Homo sapiens: one gene and its partners. The protein of the gene in region 1 interacts with the protein of each later gene in a biochemical or structural test. Each region holds a gene or a part of one and is shown in the gene's direction. Other genes may lie near its edges.

Region 1 (4,073 bases):
CAGTAGTGCCTACTTGGGATCCAGTCTGCAGTCCCTTTCCTGATTGTGTAAGTTACATGTTCTCACAGGTCAAACCTAATTTGTGTCCATGAAGCATAGCCAAGGGTTGTGGAAAAGAAAAAATGGCTTGGAAAAACCATAGGAACCTAAAGAAACTGCCAAGTGTAGATAAGCATTGAGTATGTTACCCCATCCAAGAAATTCTATTTTAAAAAAAGAAAGGAAAACTAATGTAACCATTTGTCGAAGCAGTCTGGCAGAATATTTCAGAATAGATCTTTGAATGAAAATTTAGGAGGGGTGGAGTGAGGGGTGTTTCGGTTTTGTGGATTTGAGAGGAGCAGAAATAATATGTTGGTTTGTGATGTTCTTTTTAAAGTTTTTTCTCTCACACTTCTTTAATTGTTTTTTTTTTTTTTTTTTTTTTTGAGACAGTGTCTTGCTCTGTTGCCCAGACTGGAGTGCAATGGCACAATCTTGGCTCACCGCAACCTCTGCCTCCCGGGTTCAAGTGATTATCCTGCCTCAGCCTCCTGAGTAGCTAGGACTATAGGCACATGCTACCACGCCTGGCTAAGTTTTTGTATTTTTAGTAGAGATGGGGTTTCACAGTGTTAGCCAGGATGGTCTCCATCTGACCTCATGATCCGCCCGTCTGAGCCTCCGAAAGTGTTGGGATTACAGGCGTGAGCTACTGCACCAGGCCAGTTCTGGTCATCTTACAAGCGTTGTTTTTCAACCTTCCTATCTCATTCTCTTCCTGCTAAATGTATATGTTTTGTTGATTAAAGGAAATAAGACTTATCTCCCAAATTTACTGTCAAGACATTTGCAAAGTAACTGCAGTAATAGAGTTTAACCTTGGAAAATGTTGGTTACTGAGAATTATTGATATCTTAACCAAATTAAGCTGTTTATTTCCTTGGTTTAATGAGAACGTCTCAATATGCTTAAGAATATTCTTTTCTGATTTCTTTCAAATTATAGGTATTTTTTTCTTTTCTTTTTTCTTTTTTTTTTTTTTGAGACGGAATTTCACCCTTGTTGCCCAGGCTGGAGTACAGTGGCGCGATCTCAGCTCACTGCAACCTCTGCCTCCCGGGTTCAAGCAATTCTCCTGCCTCAGCCTTCCGAGTAGCGGATTACGGGCATGCGCCACCACACCCGGCTAATTTTGTATTTTTAGAAATTACGGGGTTTTCTCCATGTTGGTCAGGCTGGTCTCGAACTCCCTACCTCAGGTGATCTGCCCGCCTCGGCCTCCCACAGTGCTGGGATTACAGGCGTGAGCCACCACACCCGACCTCTTTTTCTTTTTTAATAGAAACAGGGTCTCCCTATGTTGCCCAGGCTGGGCTTGAACTGCTGGGCTCAAGGGATCCTCCTGCCTTGGCCTCCCAAAGTGTTAGGATTACAGGCACAAGCCACTGTACCCAGCTGAAATTATAGGTCTTAAGGCAATTGAGAACTTTATTTCAGAAGCTTAAGTTCCTTAGCAGCAGGAAACCCCATAGTATTTATCAAATCATTTCTAAAAGTATTTAGACCCAAAATTATATGACATGTTAATCTCTGAAGTAATTTGTTGTTTTGTATAACTTTTCTGTAATATATTCCATATCTGACCCCTGTTGGTATAAAGAACAACTATGCAAATCTGTTTTTTCTTTTCTTTCCTCCTAGTCTCTGCTGGATGAACCGAATCCTAACAGTCCAGCCAATAGCCAGGCAGCACAGCTTTATCAGGAAAACAAACGAGAATATGAGAAAAGAGTTTCGGCCATTGTTGAACAAAGCTGGAATGATTCATAATAGACAACTGGTCTGTTAATCTTTTTCATCATTGTTGTGTATAATTTACCTCTCATTAGAAAGGCTAACAAATTTTAAGTGCCACAGGTTTTAAGGATTCTGCAGAAAAAAAAGAAAAAAGTCCTTCAGTTTAGAACCTACAAAAGCTTGTGTATCTTGATTAATGTACTTTTTATTGCATGGTGTGAACTAAGTTATTGCTGCATAAATTTGTAATATATCCTGTTTGTATTTTTTTCCAAGTGTATAATGTTGGTGTGGAGTTTTCATGACAGAATATACACATTTTGTAAATCTGTACTTTTTTCAAATATTGAATGCCTTATTTTTGAATTCTTTAGATTTTTAAATTGGAGAAAAGCACTTAAAGTTTTTTATATATGAATATTACATGTAAAGCTGTTAAAATACATAACTTCAGTGCAAGAGACTTTGTCACTTATTTCCTTATGTGTGTAGGAGGGGTTAATAAGTCTCTAGCTCTCCATCTATTGATAGTTTCATTTACAATTTCAAAAGAACATTCTTATATTTTATCAAGGAAGTCTTCAAATTTGATTCTAAATAGCGATTATAATCTCCAACTTTATTTTGAATGTACCTCTATTAGTTTCAATTGAGTAATTCTAGACATAACTGGTTTGACTCTGTCCAACTCTGTATTTAGGCCATTTGTTACAGTTTCTTCATGCATTACTTACTGTTAAAACTGTACCTTTTGCGATTTCACAGTTGGCACTTCTGCCATGAGCAGAGAACTGATGCGACTTGTTTTGCTGCTTGGTAGCACTTTAAAAAATTTTTTGATTAATGAAGAAAGTAAAACCATAAACATTTGCCAAAAATTCATGCCCCAGTATTAGCAATGAATTAGTTGCATTGGTTTGAGAAAGGCACATATTGGAGGGAAATCTTGGTGTAACTTAAATATTTGAAAATTACCTTTAATGCAATGCATATCTGTTTATTCTGGGAAATGTTTTAATGCCAGGGCCTGCTGAGTTGCTTCTTCTTGTGGAGATTTTTTTTTTAATCTCCTGAGTTGTATAAAAGTTGTACTGCATCTTAGTTTACTGGATAAATTTAAAACACAGTATTGTAGAAAGCTAATACAAAACTATCCTATGCCTTCAAATAGTATAGAAAATGGAAAATATACAAGTAAATTCTGTTGAACCACCTGTGTAGTCTCTCTAGTAGTTAAAACAGCTATTTTAGTAACCCCAAGAGTTTCTTCTCATATCCATAAAATTGGATTACAGTATGGCAATATCTACAGCTTCTATTCATTATGCAACGTTTAACATTGATTGGATAAATGCTTATAGGCTGGGCCAGGTGGCTCCCACCTGTAGTCCCAGCACTTTGGGAGGCAAAGGCGGGAGGATCACTTGAGGCCAGGACTTTGAGACCAGCCAGGGCAACATAATAAGACTTTTCTCTACTTTAAATTTTTTAAAAAATTAGTTGGGCATAGTGGCACTTGCCTGTAGTCTCAGCTACTTAGGAGGCTGAGGTGGCAGAATAGCTTATGCCTAGGAGGTTGAGGCTGCAGTGAGCTGTGATTATGCCATTGCACTCCAGCCTGGGTGACAGAGCAATACCCTGTCTTTAAAAATAAAAGCTATTACTTGGCAAATTCTGAGGTAAGTGTATGATCTTAGGGAACTTTGATACAAATGGGAATTCACTCACTGGAATCGTGGCTCCCAAAAAGATGCTTTAATTGTGTGGTGCTTTTATAGTTTAGCTCCAAAACAAACTATAGACATTCACTCCAGTAACTCCTAGATTAAATATACAGTAGCTATGAGGGTCTGCCCTCTTATTTCATTAAATGCTATTTGGTTACTATTTCAACATCCATTTTTATCCTTGACCTGTTTTTGCCTTTCCCAGTTTAAAACAGGAAAATTTCAAGTATTGGTAGATAATTATAAAGAAGTTACATGTTACTTTACAGGGAGGTCAGTGAGTTCTAACTCCAAAATTCAACATATGCATAAAACTCATAGCATCCACATTCCTTTTCGAGAAAATCCTTAAGAAGGTTCAATCTATACATAACTCCTCACTTTTTTCTGCAGCCTTGGAACAGATTCCTATTTCTTTGGTTAAGTACCAGATATAAACCTTCGATTTACAAGGTTGAGTCATACAAAAAGTGTTTACTTTAAACTCTAGGTCAGTTTCATAAATGTATGGTAGGGCAAGAAGCTAGAACTAAAATGTTTATGTTGGTACAAAGTTATATTGATGGA
Region 2 (7,033 bases), on another chromosome or scaffold:
TTGCCTCCTAAATTTTACAATTTTACTCCCTCATGTGCAATTAATCTCTCATTCATTCAGCTGTCATTCATAGAGTGGCAGTAGGTCTTTACTCTGGTAGGTACTGGGCATATAAAGATGAGATGACAAAATTCCTGCCCTCACAGATCTTGTAGTCTGCAGTAATGGGAGAATAGTATCCATTAGAATGCAATGTGGTACAATGGCAGCATAGCCAAAAGATGTGATACATGAGAAAAGAGTGTCTGATTTGACTGTGGAAGTTTCCTGATTCCACTTAAAAAAGTAAGGTATAAATATTAAGGATAAATTATTGGTAGTTGAAAGTAGGAGAAGAAGAATTCCCGGCATGAGAACAGCACATATAAAGGTATGAGAGAGCATGAGAAATAGTTTAATATGGCTAGAGCTTACGTGTATGTGAGAAAATAGTGGGTAGAAGCTGCAAAATTACTTACATTTCTTAAACAAAAAGCATATAATGGCACCAGTAGATGATTTTTTTAAAAGATAGAAACTTTTATTCATATGTTCATTTCTGTATCTTCCATAGTTTTTAAGGTAATGGTTATAATAGTTGGTCTTTTAATATATGCCTGACAAATGAATTGAATACTATTTTACATATGTTTATATACTGTTTTATAGTTTAGTTCTCCAACTAAATTCTAATATTCTCAGAATTGGTGGCCATTTTCTTTATTTTTCAGTATCCTGTCAGTTTCCAAATTAGTCTTTTGTAGATATCTGGTTTCATTACGTATAGATTGAACTGGAAATTTTCAGAGTAATCCATAGAATATGATGATATTTCTACATTTTAATAAGAATTTTTTTATTGGTTCCTTTATCTGTGTGTAGCGAGATGAGGTTAGTCTTCATAAGAAGCTGAGGACTGAAGTAATTCAGCTAGAAGATACATTGGCCCAGGTCCGCAAGGAGTATGAAATGCTGAGGATAGAATTTGAGCAGACCCTTGCTGCCAATGAACAAGCAGGTATAATGATTCTCACTCCATGCTGTAGTTTGCTCTTAATACCTTCCTTGAAAGATACAACACAGACCCCAGGGTTTGTTAATGCTGACTTCAACTCAGAAGTCATAAGTACCTTAAATCCTATAATTCATTTTGGTTCACAGCCTGGATGTTTGTTTTTTAACTCAAGTTGACCAGTTTTGTTTTCATCTTCTGAGAAGGAATCTTTTATTTGGTAATTCTCCCTATTTCTCAGTGCCTCCTGATGTGTTCTGTTCTTTCTCTCCTTGTGCCTTTGCCCTTACCACGGTTCCTCATAACATTGTTGTTCCTGTATTTAAGGCCCTATAAACAGGGAGATGCGCCACCTCATCAGTAGCCTCCAGAATCACAATCACCAGCTGAAAGGGGAGGTCCTGAGATATAAGCGGAAATTGAGAGAAGCCCAGTCTGACCTGAACAAGGTAACCAGAGGGAATAGAATAAATATCATTTGCTATTAATGTCGTAAAGCTGCTTTTGAATGAGGTCGGCAATGTGGTTATCATAAGAGATGTGCATCTTTCTTTTCTTTATTCTCCCAGACACGCCTGCGTAGTGGTAGTGCCCTCCTGCAGTCCCAGTCTAGTACTGAGGACCCGAAGGATGAGCCTGCGGAGCTAAAACCAGATTCTGAGGACTTATCCTCCCAGTCCTCAGCTTCAAAGGCATCTCAGGAGGATGCCAATGAAATCAAGTCTAAACGGGATGAAGAAGAACGAGAACGAGAAAGGAGGGAGAAGGAGAGGGAACGAGAAAGAGAACGGGAGAAGGAGAAGGAGAGAGAACGAGAGAAGCAGAAGCTAAAAGAGTCAGAAAAAGAGAGAGATTCTGCTAAGGATAAAGAGAAAGGCAAACATGATGATGGACGGAAAAAGGAAGCAGAAATTATCAAACAATTGAAGATTGAACTCAAGTAAGAACCACATTTAGAGTAACAGTTTCGACTGAAAAGCTAAGATTAAGACATCATGCATGAAATGTTTGGTTGATGGCATGGCTTGTCTGATCGTTTTAATGTTTTAGATTGTACAATTAATTTGGTTTCAAGTCGTGTTCAAGTGCACAGCCAAAATGGCTTGCATGGCTATTTAGTACTTTGGTTCAGTGATCGAGTATCAGCAAACCGATGATGGTAGCCTTATTTTTATGAATCCAAATTAAGGAAAAGGATGTCATGATTGAGGTAATACTTCTGAGAATTATTGGGAATTAACTACTGCTCTTCACTGGATTTGAGCAGATTGCTGGCGTTAATTGTAATTTAAATGATATTAAGTGGAGTATTTATATATCACTGTAACTTGAACAATATCTGATCTATTTGCCTGAGAGTTAACTGGTTTGTGAATATGCCATATCTTTCTTAGGAGATTTACTCCTATACACATTGACACACTAAGATAGACCTTTAACTTGTTGAATTTTTCTGTGTCATAACCTTATGCATTGGCCCTTCTCCTGTATAACCAATAACTTCTCTGGCAGAACGGCTTACTTCTTGCTCCTTACTTTCTATGGTTGATCCTTTGTTGATGTTTGGACTTGAGAGACCACTGTGCTCAAAATGCTTGAACTCTTTTGGTATATAAAAGTATAGTTAAGAGGTTTAGTAATTTAATAAGAGGTGAAGTTTTAGTCTTTGGCTGATGGTTAATCACTCAGCTGTCAAATCTAGGATTAACAGTATATCTCAGACTTTCAAATTTTTCCCTTTTATTTCTCCCTCTTGAACTCTTTAAGGCAATTTTTTTTTTTTCTGGTGTGGTATCAGAATCATCTGAGTGACTTGTTTAAATCACTTGTTTAAATTTTTGAACTCCATCCCCAGACCTACTGAATCTCAGTTACCCAGGGTTGGGGGCCACAGAAATTTGCCTATATAACAAGTACACAAATGTCTGTTTTATAACTTTGTTAGAGGACTTTGAAGGGAGAAATGATTCATTTTTATACAGCTTACTTTTCTGTACTTTCTAAGCATATCCAAAAGTCTTTTGATAGTCTGTGCAAAATTTTATCTTTTAGGTGTGATATGAAATGTAAAATGAAACTGTTTTAAAATATTCTGCTCAATCAAAATTCCCTTGCTCTGATGACCTTTATTTTCTTATTACATTGTTCCCCTCCCTCTACTACGCCTGTCATAGGAAGGCACAGGAGAGCCAAAAGGAGATGAAACTATTGCTGGATATGTACCGTTCTGCCCCAAAGGAACAGAGAGACAAAGTTCAGCTGATGGCAGCTGAGAAGAAGTCTAAGGCAGAGGTATTCTAGTCTGCTATTACCTGTCCTTCTGGTTAAAATCTTCATTTGTGGGATTTTCCTTTATACTTGCCAACGATATAATTTCTTTCTTTATCTTTAAAATAAGTGTTTAAGTGCAACATTTTCTGCCTTTTCAAAGACCATCTGAAGTAGAGATTTTAAAACTCTCCATAGGATGGTAAAATATATCTGAATTACTGGGGTTATGAGTAGGCTTTCCAAAGTATGTATTCCTTGTTTTTCCTATGTAATTCATTGCTACAGGGATAATCTTTTTCATTACTTTTGGGAGGAATGTCTTATGCTCTTAAAATTTTGAGGCCTAAAAAAAAGGATGGGAACCACTATTCTAAAGAAAGTTACCTGTGCACTTCTCAAAAGTGTTGCTTATAGAAGCATGTCATAGTAGAATGGAGTGATGTTAAAACAGATGGTGTTATGTAATGTTTTAGTATATTATGTACCTTGTTCTATAATTCTGTAAAGACTCTTTTGGTATTATGAACCTTCTATCTTTGCACAGTATTAATTGATTTTTGAAAATGTGTTATAACTTTTTATTTTTGTGCAATTCCTTTCCTCTTATAGTTGGAAGATCTAAGGCAAAGACTCAAGGATCTGGAAGATAAAGAGAAGAAAGAGAACAAGAAAATGGCTGATGAGGATGCCTTGAGGAAGATCCGGGCAGTGGAGGAGCAGATAGAATACCTACAGAAGAAGCTAGCCATGGCCAAGCAGGTGGACTCACTTTCTTTATTTAATTGACTTTTTGAGTAAATGTTACTTGACAATAAGTTATTGCCAGTGAAATTTGCTTTTTTATTTTGGTCTTTTTTTGATTGTTAATGTGTATTTTTCCTTTTTGTGTGTGTGTTTTAATTCTTACCTTCAAGTCTTTTATCTTTCTGTTATTTTGTTTTGTGTATTTGTGAGGCAAGAAATTTACTTTTATTTAAATGGACATTTATTGAAGATCTAGTCTTTCTCTGCTGTTGTTCAGACAGTTATTGAAGATCTAGTCTTTCTTTGCTGACCTGGAATTAAGGGTTATAGTGAATATAAAATGAAAAATAAGACATAAGATTTTATATACATTATGATTACAAATATATGAAACTAAGAAAACTATGCTTATAAATATATATCATTATATATTTCTATGTAGTACATATACTACACAGAAAAACTATGCTTATAAATATGTGATTTATATATAATAAGGATATAATCTATTAACCAATATAATAACATTGATTAAGCAGTATGTTAACTATGGCTATTTTGGGGTCATAGAACTATAGAGATTGTTCTCCTCCTTATAATGAATATGTATGTATTTTTAAATGCCAGGGAATTTTTATTAAAATTCAATAATAAAGATACTGAAAATGCTTGAAAAAACCATATATGTATTCTCTGTTAGTACACCTTCATTGTTTCTAAGAAATAGCAAAATAACAGTGAGATGGAGTAGGTTTAATGGTAAGTTGATCATGAAGTGCCTTGAAAAGAAGAACTTCATTAGATCCTATACACATTCCTTTTGTTAACAAGTGTAATTTTGGGCTGGGCGCGGTGGCTCATGCCTGTAATCCCAGCACTTTGGGAGGCCGAGGTGGATGGATCACCTGAAGTCGGGAGTTCAAGACCAGCCTGACCAACATGGAGAAACCCCATCACTATTAAAAAAAAAAAAAAACAAAATTAGCTGGGCTTGGTGGCGCATGCCTGTAATCCCAGCTACTTGGGAGGCTGAGGCAGGAGAATTGCTGGAACCCAGGAGTGGAGGTTGCAGTGAGCCGAGATGGCGCCATTGCACTCCAGCCTGGGCAACAAGAGCAAAACTCCATCTCAAAAAAAAAAAAAGTGTAATTTTGACTTTTCTTAAATCTGGTAAATGCCACTTTTTTTTTTCTTCCCTCTCTCTTAAGGTAATTATCAGGAAATTATACTATTATAGGTTCTAGAACAAGTAAAAAGAAAGACACTATGTTCTTGTATACGATGACTATCTTAAAAATGTTCAGTCTTTCTAAGTTTATGTATTAATATAATGTGATCTCATAAAAGTGCTTTTTTTAAGTTTTGCTTTTGTTTATTTTGGTACTAGAAGAACTGGTTTTAAAGTACATGTGGAGAAGTAAACAAGAGTAACAAGAGAAATTGAAAAAGAACAGCACTGGGGTCTCTTCCATATATTAAAACATAAAGTTTCTGTAGATGAAATAGCTTGGGACTACTAGACAGGCTATTAGAACTGAATAGAAACTTGAGAAGTAGTTGAAAGTACACATGATACTTATTATGTGCTAAATACATAGTTTTAAATCAGTGGGGAAAAGAAAAACTGTGACATGTGATGGGACAAAATTAAAAAAAATAATGTTAGAGAAAAGTTAGATACATACTTGAATACACTAGGATGATTTCCAAATGGATCATAGATATGATATTTTAAAAAATGCATCCATCAAAAAGCTAGAAGAAAACCATTAAATTCCTTTATAATTTGGAGTGGAGACCTTTCTATGAATAAAAGGCTAGAAAACATGAACAAAAAATTGATAATTTTGAGTTATTTTTTAAAATGATGCAAAACTTCTACACTGCAAAAAACACTGTTAGCAAAGCCAAAAGATTAAATGACAAAAAGTAAAAAATATTTTTAACTTTTATTACAAAGAAGGCTTATCTGATACAAAAAAAACTCTCCAAAATAGGGAAAAAAACTCAAGAATCCAGTGGAAGAATAGGCAAAAGAAATGAGTTGGTTATGGAAAGAATACAAGTGGTCTTAACCATATGAAAAGATGCTCAGTCTCACTTAAAATGAGATAGATATAAAGTAAAGCTATTATTAGATACCAGTCTTCACCTATCAGATTGTTACAAGGCTTTAGATGTTTGCAACTGCTGGAAATCCTGTAGATCCAGTATTTTAATTGTGGAAAAGCATGAGAAAATGTGAGAGGTTATGATGGAAGTACTCTTAACCAATTGCTGCTTGATCCGTTTGTCTAGATTAAGGTAAATACAATTATTGTCTAATTTAACTGACGTTGAGTACAGATCAACTAATAAGTATCAGACCAACAATTGGTGCCAGTGACTTCAGATAATAGAGCTTCTGTATGCCTAGTGACAAAACACAACTTCTTAAAACTCTGTCACTAAATTAATTTATATCTAAATGAACAGTGGGAAAATTTAGTTTCCTGTGCTCTTCCATTGAAGTTGGAAGATTCTTCTAAAATCAAATCTCTTCCTTCATCCTTTAGGAAGAAGAAGCACTCCTCTCTGAAATGGATGTCACAGGCCAGGCCTTTGAAGACATGCAGGAGCAAAATATCCGTTTGATGCAGCAATTGCGGGAGAAGGATGATGCAAATTTCAAGCTCATGTCAGAGCGTATCAAGTCCAATCAGATCCATAAGTTGCTTAAAGAAGAGAAGGAGGAGCTGGCAGACCAGGTGTTGACTCTGAAGACTCAGGTAATTAGGATGAGTAGAGCTTTCTATTCTGTTGAAATAGGGTGCTTTCTACATGATGATATAAGTAAAAGAATGATTATTGTGGCACATTTTTGTGATTGGAAAAAAATTTGAAAACTAAATGTTCATCATTAGGGTATTGGTAAATAAATTATACATCTCTACTGTTATTCCTACAAAAGAGTACAGTGTACTTGTCAAATATGGATCTGCTAATATGGAAACATGTCTGAAATAAAATCAAGTGACGTGTTTTGTT
Region 3 (7,575 bases), on another chromosome or scaffold:
CTGGTGGGGATATAGAGGTAGCAATGTTGTTTCCCTTTAGGAAATGTTAGCAAGCCCTTGTGTGAGAGGTAGTTGGGTAGGGTGGCTATGCTGGACTTTGCAGCTTCAAATTCTGATCCCTACTCAGTAGCTGTGTGACCTTAGGCAGGTTATTTAACCTATCTGTGCCTCAGTTTCCTTGTATGAAATGTGGATAGTGATACCTAGCACATAGGATTGAGGGAGGATTAAATGAGTTAATTTATGTAAAATGCTTAGAGCAGGGCATGCACTGCACACCTATTGCCAAGTATGTGCTGGCTGTTATTGTCATTGGCTTTCTCTTTTTTTTTTTTTTTTTGAGATGGAGTCTTGCTTTATCCCCCAGGCTGGAGTGCAGTGGCAGCGATCTCAGCTCACTGCAAGCTCTGCCTCCCAGGTTCATGCCATTCTCCTGCCTCAGCCTCCCAGTAGCTGGGACTACAGGCACCCGCCACCACGCCCGGCTAACTTTTTGTATTTTTAGTAGAGACGGGGTTTCACAGTGTTAGCCAGGATGGACTCGATCTCCTGACCTCGTGATCCGCCTGCCTCAGCCTCCCAAAGTGCTGGGATTACAGTTGTGAGCCACTGCACCTGGCCTGTTCTTTGTTTTTTTTTAACTCTTAAGTTCTGGGATACGAGCAGAACATGCAGGTTTGCTACGTAGGTATACATGGGCCATGGTGGTTTGCTTTACCCATCAACCCATCATATAGGTTTTAAGCCACCGTCATTGGCTTTCTAATGATCATTTCTCTGGAGCCACTTCAGCTGTGCTTTTTGTTTGTTTGTTTGTTTGTTTTGAGACAGAGTCTTGCTCTGTTGCCCAGGCTGGAGTGCAGTGGCCAGATCTTGGCTCACTGCAGTCTCCACCTCCTGGGTTCATGCAGTTCTCCTGCCTCAGCCTCCTGAGTAGCTGGGACTACAAGCGCGCACCACCATGCCTGGCTATTTTTTGTATTTTAGTAGATAGGGGGTTTCACGGTGTTGCCCAGGCTGGTCGCGAACTCCTGAGCTCAGGCAATCCGCCTGCCTCAGATTGTGCTGGGATTACAGGTGTGAGCCACCACGCCTGGCCTGCAGCTGTGCTTTTATCTGTCATCTTGGACTTCTGCATAAGGGATCATTTAGAGAAAGGACTCTGACTAAAAACAAAAAGTCTGAAGTCCTGATGTCATCCAAACCCTTCATTCTACACCTGCTCAGAGGGACAGGGCAGCCTGCCCTCTCCAGATCCTCACTTGGCTCTGGCTCTGGTGGGGCCACTGTCTCTAGTTCCTCTTTCTGCGGGGTAACTGCCTGCTCCTCCATCTCCTTGCTTTCTTCTTTCTCTGCAAACCAGAAGCAGGAAGAGACTGTGGCCCCAGGCCTGGCCCAGCCCAGCCCTGCCCTGGCACTCTCCCTTACCCGTCTCACTCTCTGGCCACAGTTTGGGTGGCTGTAGCCCCATGTAAGTCAAAGACAGATCCAGCCGCACCTGGGAAGCAAGGCAGAGGGAGGCTGAAAGGAGTGCACCTGTGCTGAGGGGAGGGGCGGTTGAGGGTGGCTCCTCATGGTCCACCACCCCCTACCTGGGGTGTGAAGACGTATTTATAGAGCTTGAAGTGGCGGAAGTAAGTGTTGACCACGTAGTCTTCCAAGGCCAGCAGCTGTTCCTCTTTGAAGAGGTCGATGCTGAAAGGAGGCCGCTGTGGTGGTGACTCGGAATTAGAACCCTGACTACCTTCCGGAGCCCTGGCTTTGCCTCCAAAAGCCCAGCAACAGGAGCAAGGAGAGCCCACTGGGGTCTTCACAAGAAGATAAGGGTGATGAATGTGAGAGAGACTGGGTGAGACCTTGTCTGGGGATGGGTAAAGTTTCCAGAATGTTCCAGGGGAACTGACCCTGACTCCATGGCAAAAAAGGACACTGGTGAAGTAGCGGTAGCACTCCTCCACGTTGCCCAAGGGGGTTGCTGGTAGGGAAAGCAAGATGCAGCAGTGAGGCCCTCTCTGGTATCCATTCATTCACTTCACTCAACAGCTGTTTATGACCATGAGCTTCAGAAGCAGACAGATCTGGGTTTCAGCACTGGCTTGTTTCCTTAACTCATGTAACAAATACTGAATACCCACTATATGCCCACTGTATGGTTTTCGGCACTGAACAAGACAGACAAGGTCCTGCCCTTACGAAGCTTATATTCTAGGGGAATAAACCAAGAAATAGATCATTTCAGCTATTAAACATTCTGAAGCAAGAGCTATTAAACATTCTAAAGCAGGTGTTATTGTGCACTATGCATATATTTGCATATATTATTTCTCAGAACAGTCCTGTAAAATGTGTGCTGTATCCTTAATTTCTAGATAAGGAAGCAGTGGATTGGAAAGCTGATGGCTTGTGTATGATGATGCTACTAATAATGACATATTCCAGGCAGAAATCCCCTGCTTCTGCTTCCCATGGTCACTTGTGCCAGGCCCGGTTCCTCTTCTCCCTGGGGCTCAAACCTGGTAGCTGCCCCCTCTCACCAATACAAGCCTTGTGAAGATCCTGGAGCAGGGCACAAGCCGCTGACGTCTGCTCCAGTGAGAAGCCCTGCTGGCGGCAGAAAATGAGCGCGTGGCAGAAGAGGTCCAGGGTGATGGCGTCCCTCAGGCTCTGCTCAGGACACCCTAGCTCCAGCAGCTCAGCCAGCACCCTTGGGAGGGAGAGAGGAGTGAGTGACAACTGGGCCTCCTTTCATCACCCTACACCCACCACATGCTTTGGAGTCAGCCATTCCTCATGTTTTCCCAACCTGACCCCTCAGCCTTTGCCAAGAGCTCTTCCCACGCCCCCCTCAGTCCCTACTCCCTCATCTCAGCATTGGTGGTCTTCTCCAGCTGGTGCATGGAATGGACGTCCAGGTACTTCCTGTTATAGTAAAAGAAAAAGAGTATTGGTGGCCGTTACCTATCATGACAAGGCTGTGACAGCTAGTGCGTGAGACTGGGAGTTGGCCACCGGCGTGAAGCTGGGCTCTTTTGCCAGCTTGCTGTGTGACTATGCAAATCGTTAACTCTCTGGGCCTAAATGAACTCTTATGAGCCTCTCCATTTCTAAAGCCTAGGGTTAGGAATCTTGAATTCTTTTTTCTGCTCTGCCACTACCTTGTATGACCTTGGTCAAGTACTCCCTGTGGCCCTCAGTGTCCCCCTCTGTACAATACTCCTTAGCGGCCATGAGACTCCATTTACATTCTGTCTTTGGCTCTTTTTTTCTCACACTGCCTCCTCTTTGGACTGGAGAGGCTGGAAAGCCAACTTCCAGTCACCTGGAGTAATTGCATCTCCAGGCCTCAGTCTCATCTGTAAAATGGGGATGCCCTGGCCACAGACAGGACTGTTGGGGAGACAATAAAGAACGCAAATATTCAGTGTAATTTTTGTCTCTTCACACTCACCACATGCAGATCCGGGGTCGGGGCAGCGGCGGCTGCGGAAAGAAAGCGAATTGGGGAAGGCAGCTGCGGTGTCCTGGCCCGTAGCGAATCTCCAGCAGGCCGGAGAAGCCGCTGTAACTTGCCATCTCATCTCAAGGACTAAGGAGAGGCGCGGGCGAGGGAGGGCTTCAGCAGGCCCTAGGTGCTCTACGCGAGCACAGTAACCACCGGGGTCACACACCCCTGCCTCTCCTCGCCCAAGCAGCCCGGGAGACGTCCCGAACGTTAGTAAGCATAATGACAGGTGGCGCCTGCGGGGGAGCCGGTTTATAAATATTCACGAGCAGACCAGACTGTCCCGCCCTCACCGGAAACAAGTTGGCTCCGGGGTCTTCATCCGCTTTCGCCGCCGCCGCCGTCGTCCACTGAGTCCGCACACTCGCACGCGTCCGCGCGGCCGACCCATGCACTGAGCTGCGATCCTTCCCCGCTTCCCGCCGCAGCTCGGAGAGATGTTCAAGCTCCGACTGCACCCTCATTCCCAAAAAGTGGCTGGTCTTGCGGTTGAGCATCTCGCCGCTCTTCCGTGCCGCGAGGCGCCCCGGGCTCCCGCCGCCTAGGTTCCAGGACAGCCAGCGCTCGGTCGGCGGCTACCAAGGCCGGGCCCGTTCGCCTCGCTCCGGCCAATCTACGCGCGGAGAGGCGCGGCGGGGCGAATCCGTGGGGGCGTCTCCCTCCGTCTCAACGGCGACGGTTGCCAAGGGGGCTTGTGAGGGAAGGAAGGCGGAAAGCGCAGGCTCACGCCAGTGGGAGCGAAGAGAACGCGCAGATACGTGAGAAGTTGCGAGTGCCCACCTGGGCGCCCTCTCTTCCAGGTTGCTAATACGAGGGCCGGTGCTGTCCTCCAGGCTGGGAAGTGGGAGCGCGGTGTCAGTTACTATGGGAACTGCCTCTTGGCCAATCACCGAGAGAAAGAGGAGGTGTTTGGGAAGAAGCCAGAGGACCCGAGTGGCGGGACCAAGCGTAACCAATAGAAGCAGAAGATAAAGAAGTTTCCTCACATCCGGGGCTGCCTTTGGCGCCTGCGCCCTGCGCACCGTTGGGGGGGGGGCAGTGGCGTCCAGTGACGCCCAGTGACGTCCGGTGAAATCCAAGATGGCGGCGCTAGGCTGACCCTCCTGCTGGTGAGGGCTCTGGCGCCGGGGGGGACGGGATCCAGCAGGTGTGTGCAGGGTGGAGGGTGTTTGGGGCTGTGGAACACCAGCCGTTCCCACATCTCTGCTCTGTGTCTTCTGCAGGTGACGGAAGTACCGCCTCCTCCCGTTTGACGCCCCTCAGGGGACCCTGCATCGCTCCAGCCGCCGCGGCCATGTCTGGGCCAGGCAACAAACGCGCCGCCGGCGACGGGGGCTCAGGGCCCCCGGAAAAGAAGCTGAGTCGTGAGGAGAAGACCACCACGACTCTTATCGAGCCCATTCGTCTTGGAGGCATCTCTTCCACGGTTCGTGGGCTCTTGCCTTAACCCTCAGAACTTCCCAGAGCCCTCCCTCTGTTCTCTGGCCAAACTGTGCGGAATCTTACACCCACTTCCCCAAGTTTAGCAAGGTCCGCGTTACAGGACCTTGAAAGAAAGGTTAGAAAGAAGCTCAGAACACGACGCCTGTCTTCCCTTTACAGATAGGAAAACAGGTTTCCAGGGGGCGTGTGACTTGTCAAAGACTAAGGATTTACAAGGGGACAGGCAGAAACAACGTGAGCCTCCTCACAACAAAGACACTTTCGCTGTGTGTTGTCTGAGCCTCCTTAGATTCTGTTAGCGGTTAGTGTGGGAATACCTCCATCTCCCATGCATTGCAGATGCTCTGCTCCTCTTTCTCTCTCTGTGATTGGTTTGTGGGCCCTGCTTGACGCTCTCGTCGGCCCCTTTGTTTCCTTTGGTAGGAGGAGATGGACCTGAAGGTACTACAGTTCAAGAACAAGAAACTGGCAGAGCGGCTGGAACAACGGCAGGCTTGTGAAGATGAACTCCGAGAACGAATTGAGAAGTTGGAGAAGCGGCAGGCCACAGATGATGCCACACTCCTCATCGTCAATCGCTACTGGGCCCAGGTGGATACCTTCTGCTTTCAAAGACCAGGCCTTGATTCAGCTGCCAATCCCCAGATTCCCCTGCTAGGAAAGGAGTATCATGTTGGAAAGCACTAAGGGATTCATAACATTTTTGATGTTTTCTCCTTCCAGCTGGATGAAACTGTGGAAGCCCTTCTCCGATGCCATGAGAGCCAGGGGGAGCTGTCTTCAGCGCCTGAGGCACCTGGGACCCAGGAGGGGCCAACATGTGATGGGACTCCTCTCCCAGAGCCGGGGACATCAGAGCTGAGAGGTAGGACCAGAGTGCTGGGATCTGGGGAGCTTAAGTTCTGGGAGAAGTCCTGGGGAGGAGGGGACTTTGGTGTTGGGCCCCTGAATTGCCTATCTTACTACTTCTCACGAAATGGATTTCATGTTTGGGCAGTAAAGTGCAGTGCACAAAAACACAGGCTTTAGACTCTGACTAACTTGGTTTATAGAGCAATTCATGTTTTGACACCCATTTGTTTCAAAACAGTATTATGGTTGAGTATTAAATATGTATTTGACGCTTCCTAGAAATGAGTGTTGCACTTGCTATAAGGGAGGAAATTATAAACATAGTAAGCAGAAAGTACTGGGGCTCCTGAAACGGAATGATTGTGTGTGCATGCATGTGCGTGTGATTCTAATTATATTGGTAAAGTACAGGAAGCTTCCCTGAGGATGTGATACGCAACTCTGTAGCTTTGAGGAAATTACTTTACCTCCCTGAATTTCATTTGTCTCACTTTCAGGATGGAGATAATAGTGCACTATAGGTTGTGTTGATTAAGTGAACCATGAGTATTGAAGGGCTCAGTCTGGAACTTGGTACAGAGTGGTAGTAACTGCTGCTCTTATCCTCATGAGGGTCTGTCCATTCCTTCCAGACCCCTTGCTGATGCAGCTGCGGCCCCCTCTCAGTGAGCCGGCCTTGGCTTTTGTGGTGGCACTGGGTGCCAGCAGCAGTGAGGAGGTGGAGCTGGAGCTGCAAGGCCGAATGGAGTTCTCCAAGGCAGCTGTGTCTCGTGTGGTAGAGGCCTCAGACCGCCTACAGCGCCGGGTGGAGGAACTCTGTCAGCGAGTGTACAGCCGAGGTGGGTTCTTTGTGCCCATACTGAAGGGGTGTCCATCCCCACCTGCATCTTGATGGCACCCCTTCCTGATTCCCCTAATGCCCGAGTCCAAGGGCGGCCAGAATTTCCCAAGGAATAAATCAGCCATGTTCTTGGAAGAGGTAGGTTAGGCTGTAGATGGGGGTTCCAACTTTGATTCCGGGATTGAATGCTAGAGAGATGGGTTGGAGGAGTTGTTGATGCCGGTAGAGGCTCCTGGCCAGAGGCCCCTCTGGAGCACTTGGTGTGGGTTGCGGATCCACAAGGCATAGCTTCAAGGGCTCAGGCCTTGTAGGTTGACAGGCTTCTCCCACCTTAGTTCTGCCACCCTCACCTGGACATGCTGGGAAAGTGGCTCCCCTCTCTGAGCTGGTTTCCTTCTCTGTGCAGTGGGGATAAAGACTCCTGGCTTTGTCATGAGAAATGGGCAAGACAGCTGGTGGATCACACTGGGTATATAGCAGACTCCAGAATGAGTTAGTTGTTTGCCCCATTGCCCTGAGCTGGGCTCTTACCTGGGCCCTGCCTTCCCAGGGGACAGTGAGCCCCTCAGTGAGGCGGCTCAGGCACACACCCGAGAGCTGGGCCGTGAGAACCGGCGACTGCAGGACTTGGCCACTCAGCTGCAGGAGAAACACCACCGCATCTCATTGGAGGTGAGGAGCCGGGGGCTTTGGGGGTGTGATTAGAATCAGGCAGGATTTGGGTTAGATGGGCACTCAGGGACCTCAGGAACCAAGTCCCCCATCCAAGCATCTGCTCCCTCATTGTTCCCAGTACTCCGAGCTCCAGGATAAAGTGACATCGGCAGAGACCAAGGTGCTGGAGATGGAGACAACAGTGGAGGACTTGCAGTGGGACATCGAGAAGCTGCGGAAGCGAGAGCAAAAGCTCAATAAGCACCTGGCAGAGGCCTTAGAG

The links. Proteins that work in one complex are often made in the same cells at the same time.
Region 2: the proteins of UBE2B (region 1) and RNF20 form a complex in vitro, tested with the Homo sapiens proteins (4 studies listed by BioGRID, with this or other methods).
Region 3: the proteins of UBE2B (region 1) and RNF40 form a complex in vitro, tested with the Homo sapiens proteins (3 studies listed by BioGRID).

The regions. Positions count from the first base shown.
Region 1 is NC_000005.10:134,388,542-134,392,614, forward strand, and holds the end of UBE2B (ubiquitin-conjugating enzyme E2 B), read left to right. Parts: intron 1-1,683; coding exon 1,684-1,812; 3' UTR 1,813-3,567; downstream 3,568-4,073. UniProt on the Homo sapiens protein: E2 ubiquitin-conjugating enzyme that accepts ubiquitin from the ubiquitin-activating enzyme E1 and transfers it to a E3 ubiquitin-protein ligase. In vitro catalyzes 'Lys-11'-, as well as 'Lys-48'- and 'Lys-63'-linked polyubiquitination.
Region 2 is NC_000009.12:101,550,823-101,557,855, forward strand, and holds part of RNF20 (E3 ubiquitin-protein ligase BRE1A), read left to right. Parts: intron 1-861; coding exon 862-997; intron 998-1,318; coding exon 1,319-1,440; intron 1,441-1,560; coding exon 1,561-1,931; intron 1,932-3,165; coding exon 3,166-3,283; intron 3,284-3,871; coding exon 3,872-4,021; intron 4,022-6,561; coding exon 6,562-6,774; intron 6,775-7,033. UniProt on the Homo sapiens protein: Component of the RNF20/40 E3 ubiquitin-protein ligase complex that mediates monoubiquitination of 'Lys-120' of histone H2B (H2BK120ub1).
Region 3 is NC_000016.10:30,757,750-30,765,324, forward strand, and holds the start of RNF40 (E3 ubiquitin-protein ligase BRE1B), read left to right. Parts: upstream 1-4,572; 5' UTR 4,573-4,611; exon of another isoform or gene 4,612-4,649; intron 4,650-4,725; 5' UTR 4,726-4,796; coding exon 4,797-4,928; intron 4,929-5,368; coding exon 5,369-5,536; intron 5,537-5,668; coding exon 5,669-5,810; intron 5,811-6,429; coding exon 6,430-6,636; intron 6,637-7,188; coding exon 7,189-7,310; intron 7,311-7,431; coding exon 7,432-7,575. Other genes in the region: CFAP119 (cilia- and flagella-associated protein 119), read right to left, coding at 1,263-1,352, 1,429-1,498, 1,593-1,975, 2,535-2,704, 2,857-2,919, 3,449-3,480, 3,796-3,999.